Linked DNA regions of Homo sapiens. The protein of the gene in region 2 interacts with the protein of the main gene of each other region in a pairwise test. Each region holds a gene or a part of one and is shown on either strand. Other genes may lie near its edges. The genes, in order: PRMT7 and MNDA.

Region 1 (3,821 bases), on a different chromosome or scaffold from region 2:
CTCCTGGGTTCAAGCAATTCTCCTGCCTCAGCCTCCCGAGTAGCTGGAATTACAGGCACGCACCACCACATCCGGGTAATTTTTGTATTTTTAGTAGAAGTGGGGTTTCTCCATGTTGGCCAGGCTGGTCTCGAACTCCTGACCTCAAATGATCCACCCACCTGGGGCTCCCAAAGTGTTGGGATTACAGGCGTGAGCCACCACACCCAGCTGGTTAATACTTTAAATGATAACCGTCCTTCCCCAAAATTAAACTTAAACTGAATGAAAGATCATCAGGTTAGGAGGATGAGAGGAGGCTGAATTCTGCTAAGGTGAAGCCATTGTTAGGTCACAAGATCTGCAACCTTCCCTGATTCCTCCTGCAGATAACACCACCTTGCAGAAACTAAGATTGACCCTTTGAAATGTCTTTTCGGGTTTTTACGTTTCTGTCTGATGACTCCACCCAGAAGTGGACTCCCTCGCCTGCCAAACTATCCTTGAAAAACCCTAGCCTGAGCCGGGCATAGCGGCTCACGCCTGTAATCCCAGCACTTTGGGAGGCCGGTGGGGCAGGTCACCTGAGGTCGGGAATTTGAGACCAGCCTGGCCAACGTGGAGAAACCCCATCTCTACTAAAAATACAAAATTAGCCAGGCATGGTGGCGCATGCCCGTAATCCCAGCTACTCAGGGGGCTGAGGCAGGAGAATTGCTTGAACCCGGGAGGTAGAGGTTGCAGTGAGCTGAGATCGCGCCATTGCACTCCAGCCTGACCAACAAGAACGAAACTCCATCTCAAAACAAACAAACAAAAAACCGTAGCCTGTGAATTTTCAGGGAGACTGATTTGAGTAACAAATCTCTCCCCCACGTGGTGTGGCTGGCTTCGTGTCAATTAAAGTCTTTATTGCAATGCCATGGTGTCAGCGAATTGGTTTTGTCTGAACAGTGGGTGGGAAGAACCCATCAGGCAATTCCGACACACCTTTCCCACTTTCTTTTCCTTTGAGTGTGAGAGTGAGAGAGGGTGGATGGGGGTGTAAATAACACAAGCACATGAGAGAAAATTCAAAAGGTATACAAGGACGCATAGTAAAAAATATGTTTCCTTTCCACCCCTAACCTCCAGTCCCCATTCCCAGATGCAGTCAGTTTTACGAATTTCTGGGAATTCTTCCAAAGACCTCCTTATATGTACACCACACATGACTATCCACTCACAAACACATATATTCCTATTTTTACTAACACCAGTGCTGCCACACAACACACCATTCTGCACCTTTATTTTTGTGTCAGGTAATAATCCACCCTGAAGCTTGTCCCACATCAGTGCACAGAGAGCTACCTCACCCACTGAAAGGATAATGGACTTGATCCCTGCTAGTGGCCTTTAGGTTGGCCTTTTTCTACTAAACCAGGGCTGCACACATCTATTCTGCACAGACGCAAATCCAGCCACAGCCCCATGTCTGAAAGCAGCATTGCTTTCTACCTGAAACGTTCTGATGACTCGCTTTCCTGCTTTTTCCCTGAGCTTCCCCAACAGTGTGCTTGCAAACTGTTTAAACTTTATTCACTAGTAGGTGAAAATGAGATCTCATTGCAGTTTAAAGTTGCATTTCTCTTTTTTTTTTTTTTTAGAGACAGGTTCTCATCTTATTGCCCAGGCGGGAGTGCAGTAATGCAGTCCCGACTCACTGCAGCCTCAACTTCCTGGGTTCAAGCAACCCTCCTGCCTCAGTCTCCTGAGAGGCTGGGAGCATAGGTGCTGTGAGCAGCTAAAACTGCATTTCTCTTATTATGAGGGACAGTGGGCAACTATCCCCATCATCTGTATTTCCTTTTCTGTGTTTCATGTCCTCTGCCTACTTTCTATCGGGGTGGAGAAAGGAGATTTTGAGGCCACAGAAGGTGAGGCTGTAGTTCTCTATTCCAAGCTGATGGGAGCCCCCTGGGATTACTCAGGGGATGAGGGGTGGTATCTAAGGGTGGCTGCATCATGATGAGGCGGGAGAGGAAAGCCAACTTCTCTGTTCCTCACTGTGTCCATGAGTGCTCACCATGAGCTCACCCTGGGAAGGCTACGTTACTACAGCTAGCCTTTGCTTGCTTTTTAAAAACTTTTGTCTTTGATTCTGACACAGCCCTCCTGTCTCTAAATTCTCCTGGGTCCAAGGCTCAACTGTTACTTTCCCATGAACAGCAGTGGACAAGTTTCCTGACAGGGCACATGCTAGGCTCCTGCCTCTTACCTGCATCTCCTCTGGGTCTGAGTGTGCCCAGAAGGGGGCCATGGTGCACTTGATCTTCCCCTCAGGGTCCATTTCAATGTCCCACCACGAGAGAACCACCTGAGCTCGGCCAGATGTCAGAGGTTCAAACCGCCTGCTATGGCAGGCTGCTGAGCTACTGACTTGCTTGCTGAAGTCTATGCTGAGGAATAATATTCAAGAATGTAAGCAGAGTTTAACCTCACACACTCCATTTTTTAAGCTTTTACAGTGACTTCACTGGCAATGACATTTGGCTGCAAAGGACTCTTGCCTTCGAGGCAGGTGACAGCAGCTAGATTTCCTTCCCACTCAAAAAGAACCTCCTAATACCCAACTTCCATCAAATGTCTCAAAGCGCCATCACCTATGGTGGCTCCTTGGTACCTGAACATGGGCAGCACATCGCTGAGGACTGTAAAGTCGGCTGGTGACACCTGGTTCAGCTGAATGTCACAGACAGAGGGTGCGCCAGGGCAGCTCTCCACGTCAACGGGAGGGACGATGACCTGCTCTCCGAGGCTGGTCTGCACGTGGATGGGAAATAGCTTGTTCCACGACCACATCCTCCCGGACTCCACCAGCTGTGCATAGACGGTGGCTCTGTGGGGCACGGCCTCACAATTTTCCTAAGTTTATATTAAAAACAAAACCAAACAAAAATCAGATGCTTAGACCCACAGTAATTCCCATTGATCAAAAGAGGTTTATTCCTTAACATTAGGTTGGTTCAGTAATGCCCAACACCTTATACTATTAGAATAGTGAACTGTTTTCAGCCCTATGCCCTTGGAAAAGGGAAAAAAAGGGTACTACATTTCAAAAAGAACACACACTGTGCCTAAAATGACTTCTGTCAGCTAAGTTCCTGGCTACCTGGCACTCTTAAATGCTTCACGTCCTGCTGCTGGGTGGTGATCCTGGCTCTGGGCTCAGTGTCCCTTCAGTGCCGCTCCTGCCCAGCACCAAAACAAGAGCCTCCTTGTGGCAAAGCCCTGTGGACCACGGTGCCCCCTCAGCTGCCCAGCCCTCTAGCGCCGCTGGGCACTGCTGCACACTCAGCCCCTAGGGCTGTGGCTCCGGCTCCGGCTCCTTGTCCGGCTCTCCTCCTACCTCTTGCATCCACTCCACGTCCTCCATGCACCAGGCAATAGGGACCCGGCAAGAGCACACTCACAGCTGCTACCCACATGGCTTTCACCACCAGGACACCACTGGCCTCTTGGGCCAAATGATTCTCTGCTGTAGGGGTTGCTCTGGGCATGGTAAAAGGCTAGCAGAATAACTGGCCTCCCTGCGAAGCATCTCCCAACCTTGCTCTGGTAGACAAATGCTGCTCTAACTGGACTCACTCCCGCTGCCTTCCCCAGGCTGTGCTTCCTCCGCCCCACCTCACAAGGGGACTCCCTGGTCCGGACTGTCTCCCTCCACACTCTCCACAGTGACCTCAACCATGCCCTCTTCACTGAGTAAATCCATGCATCTCTGGGCCTCTTTGCTTGGCTGACCTTTAGAGAGCTCAAACTCTGTGTAAACCAGAAGAATCGCCCTCACCACTTCCCAA
Region 2 (3,821 bases):
TTTTATTTGTTTTCTGTATGTCTTAATAGGTTTTTGTCTCTTAGTGACTTCTTTTTGTTGATTTTTTTCTGTAGTGAAACATTTTTATGTTCTTCTATTCCTTTGTGTACATCCTACAGATATCTCTGTGGTCATCATCAGGTTGCATATGATATTCTAAAGTTATAGCAATCTATTTTTAACTAATAACAACTTAACTTCAATCATATGCAAAATGTTTACTCCTTTACAGCTCCCCAACACATATTTTATGTTAATATTACAAATTGCATTTATATAATATGTACCAATTAACATTGATTTATAAATTGTTTTGCTTTCACATTTTAAATCCTATAAAATAATAAAAAATGATTACAAATCAAAATAGCAAAAGTCATGTTTCATGTTTATGTATATACTTACCTTTCATCAAGAACTTACATTTTTGTATGAGTTTGAGTTACCATCTAGCATCCTTGTGTTTCAGCTTGAAGAAATCTCTTTAGTATTTCTTTTAAGGTAGATATAGTGGTAATGAAATCCTTCAGCTTATGTTTATCTGGGAATGTCTTAATTTCTCTCATTTATGAATAGCAGGTTTCCCAGATATAGCATTTTTGATGGACAGACTTTTCTTTAAACACTTGAAATGTATTGTCCCACTACCTTCTGGTCTACAAAGTATTTGCTGAAAAATGTGCTCATAATCCTATTGAAGATTTCTTGGATATAATGAGTTGCCTTTTTCTTGCGCTTTTTAAATGATTTTCTTTTCGTCTTTGAGTGTTGGTAATTTGATAATAATGTGTCATAGTGTAAGTTTCTTTGAGTTTATCATAGTTGCAGCTTGTTTGGTTTCTTATATCTGTACATTTAGTCTTTTCTCAAATTTGGAAAGTTTTCAGTCCTTATTTACTCAATAATTTTGTTATTCCTTTCTCTTTTCCATCACCTTTTCAGACTTACATAATGCATATATTGTCCCACTTGATGAACTTTATAAGTTCTGTTCACTTTCCTTTATATCTTTTAAAAAAGTTTGTTCTTCAGCCTTGATAATTACACATGACCTGTCTAAAAGCTAACTGATTCTTCTGCCTATTGGTGTGGGCTGAGGAACCCCTCTAGTGGATTTTACAATGCAGTCAATGTGTTTTTCAGCTTCAGAATTTATGGAATTTTTTCTGGTAATTTCTATTTTTTGTCTATTCTCATTTTTTATTAATCATTTTCCTGATTTTATTTAGTTGTCTCTACCTATTTTCCTTTAACTCATTTATCATATTTAAGAGTGCTGTTTTAGTCTTTGACAAGAAAGTCTGAGGGCTGTGTTTCTTTAGAGAAAGTTTGTGGAGATTCATTTTTTTCTTTAAAATTGACCATGTTTACCTGTTTCTTTGTATACCTTTTGTTGAAAACTGGACATTTGTAAAAACAGCCCCCTCTCAACCATTGTTAACTGGCACCATATTCAGGGGAGGACTTTCACTCTTCAGCTAAGTATGAAATATAAACGTTCTCTGAGGCCTATATGGACGTGTGTCTTGCCTGGGCTTATGTGTGTGCATTTTTTGTAATTCTCTCATATACACACTGCTTTTAATCTGTAATTTCCCTAAGAGCCACACCTGCCTCTTTTCATGACCTTAGATGTTCTACTGTATTCCTCTATCCATAATCTCTTGCCTTCTGGCACCCAGGGAGTAGCAGATCCCATGAAGCTCTCACAAGCTGGAGCACCCACCACTACTTTTTGCAGCCTCAAATCTGACATTTAAACTATGCCACCATTTCCATCAATGCTCCAAGTCATGTGAAGCAGTTACTAGTCCCTCAAGGAACCTACAGAGAAGCTATAATGTTGCAAAGCAGTTCCACACTTTTCCTTCTATTCCAAAGGAAGAATGAGGAATTAGGAAGTTTCCTCCTGATCACGTCACACCATTCAAGGGAGAAAGTTAAACAGGGACAAAGAAAAACACCTAGAAGTTTTCCACTATTTTGAATGTGGCTTAATCTTGGTTTGGAATTTCCTTTGTTGCAACCAATTCTTAACAGCTGAAAACATTAGTTTGGTTCATAAATTGTTCTTTATTTGGTGTTTCCATGGTATAATGAAAGTCTGGAACGTCCTTGTCTGCAATCTTGCTAATGTCACTCTCAGTGAGAAGAGAACAATTTTTTAAACCATAACATTCAAATAACATTTTGACCAGATACAAAATTTTAGTTTGAAAAATATTTTTGCTTGAAAACTGATTCACAGCACTTCACCTGAAACCCCTGGGACAACTCTGATTTTTAATTCATTTTTTTAGGGGGGGATTTTAGAAAGACTACTTAATGCATACATTGTATGTAGGCACTGCAAGTGTCCCAGTAGAGGTAATATCAACATCCTAATATCAAATGCATTAAGAGTTCTTCAACAAATCATGCCACTATTCACATTAAAGTGAGATGAATAAGGAAGATTAAAAATAGCCACTGTATTAGTTCCTTCTCACGCTGCTATGAAGAAATACCTGAGACTGGGTAATTTATAAAGAAAAGAGATTTGATTTACTCACAGTTCCGCACGGCTGGGGAGTCCTAAGGAAACTTACAATCATGATGGAAGGCACCTCTTCACAGGGTGGCAGGAGAGAGAATGAGTGCTAGCAGGGGAAATGCCTGATGTTTATAAAACCATAGATCTCATGAGAACTTGCTCACTATCACAAGATGATATTTCAAGATGAGATTTGGGTTGGGACATAGCCAAACCATATCAGCCACGTATTACTTCACATTATATCTCTAATTTGCAAGATGATTTTGCTACCACACTTCCCTGCTAACTCTCATCCCTTCCCAAGCCCCCAAACCGCACAAATCTTTTCATCCTTCAGTATCTTCTTAGGTTTTAAAATTGCAGACATATAATTATGGATCAGTACTATGTAAAAATTACTTTCTTAACCTGCTGCAGACTGTTCAATCAGATTATTTAATCTTTGTAGGTGTTCTACTCAGTATTTCTGGAAGATTTTATCATTTTGCTTTTAATATTCTTTGGCTTTACTATATGTGCCCATGTGTGAAATTTCTCTTTATCTGATAGGTTTAAACACAGGAACACTCATGTTCTCCCAAAAGAGAACAATTTACAGCCCTAAGAATTTGGACACTCTAATTATATAAAAGTTGCACAAACACATGGTCACCAACCTAAAGGAATACCTATAAATTTAAACAGAAAATTGGAATATACGTTAGGAACTGAATGCCCTTAGGTAGTACACAAGGGGTTAAAGAGGCACACATAAGTGAGAGTGGGACCACAACAGCTCGCAGAAGATAAAGCCTCAATTAAGCATTAAAAACTCTAAGGAAGTATTCAGAGGAAGAAAACTGGGAATGCTTTCCCAGATAGCAGGAAGGGAATTAGCAGTAAGAAGACCTGAAAAAGAAAGACATATTGTGTATTTCTAGAGCATAAGGTATAAGAAATTCAAAAGTAACAGACACACACAAAAAGAAAGATACAGTTTATGCAAGGCCTTTCAAGTCATGCTGAGTAGAAATCTATACTAATAAAAATCAAAACTCATTGAAGGATTTCAGGAAAAATAGAGTCATGTCTTTATCCATAAAGAAACCTACTTGGTTGTCTGACAGAAACCTTTTAGTAAAAGTAAGACTAGTTGGAGGTAAATAATTGACTGTAAAAAACAAATGTGCAAAAAATAAATGCTGCAATTCCACACTAGAGAGCAGATAGGAGGATGGCAAAATGACAATTTTATAGATGCATAGGACACAGAGAACAAGTTCTAAGCCCCAGGGAGAAAAAGTGC

The links.
Region 1: the proteins of MNDA (region 2) and PRMT7 interact in a two-hybrid assay, tested with the Homo sapiens proteins (one large-scale study listed by BioGRID and IntAct).

The regions. Positions count from the first base shown.
Region 1 is NC_000016.10:68,338,387-68,342,207, reverse strand, and holds part of PRMT7 (protein arginine N-methyltransferase 7), read right to left. Parts: intron 2,887-3,821; coding exon 2,645-2,886; intron 2,421-2,644; coding exon 2,240-2,420; intron 1-2,239. UniProt on the Homo sapiens protein: Arginine methyltransferase that can both catalyze the formation of omega-N monomethylarginine (MMA) and symmetrical dimethylarginine (sDMA), with a preference for the formation of MMA.
Region 2 is NC_000001.11:158,837,763-158,841,583, forward strand, and holds part of MNDA (myeloid cell nuclear differentiation antigen), read left to right. Parts: intron 1-2,552; exon of another isoform or gene 2,553-2,634; intron 2,635-3,821. UniProt on the Homo sapiens protein: May act as a transcriptional activator/repressor in the myeloid lineage. Plays a role in the granulocyte/monocyte cell-specific response to interferon. Stimulates the DNA binding of the transcriptional repressor protein YY1.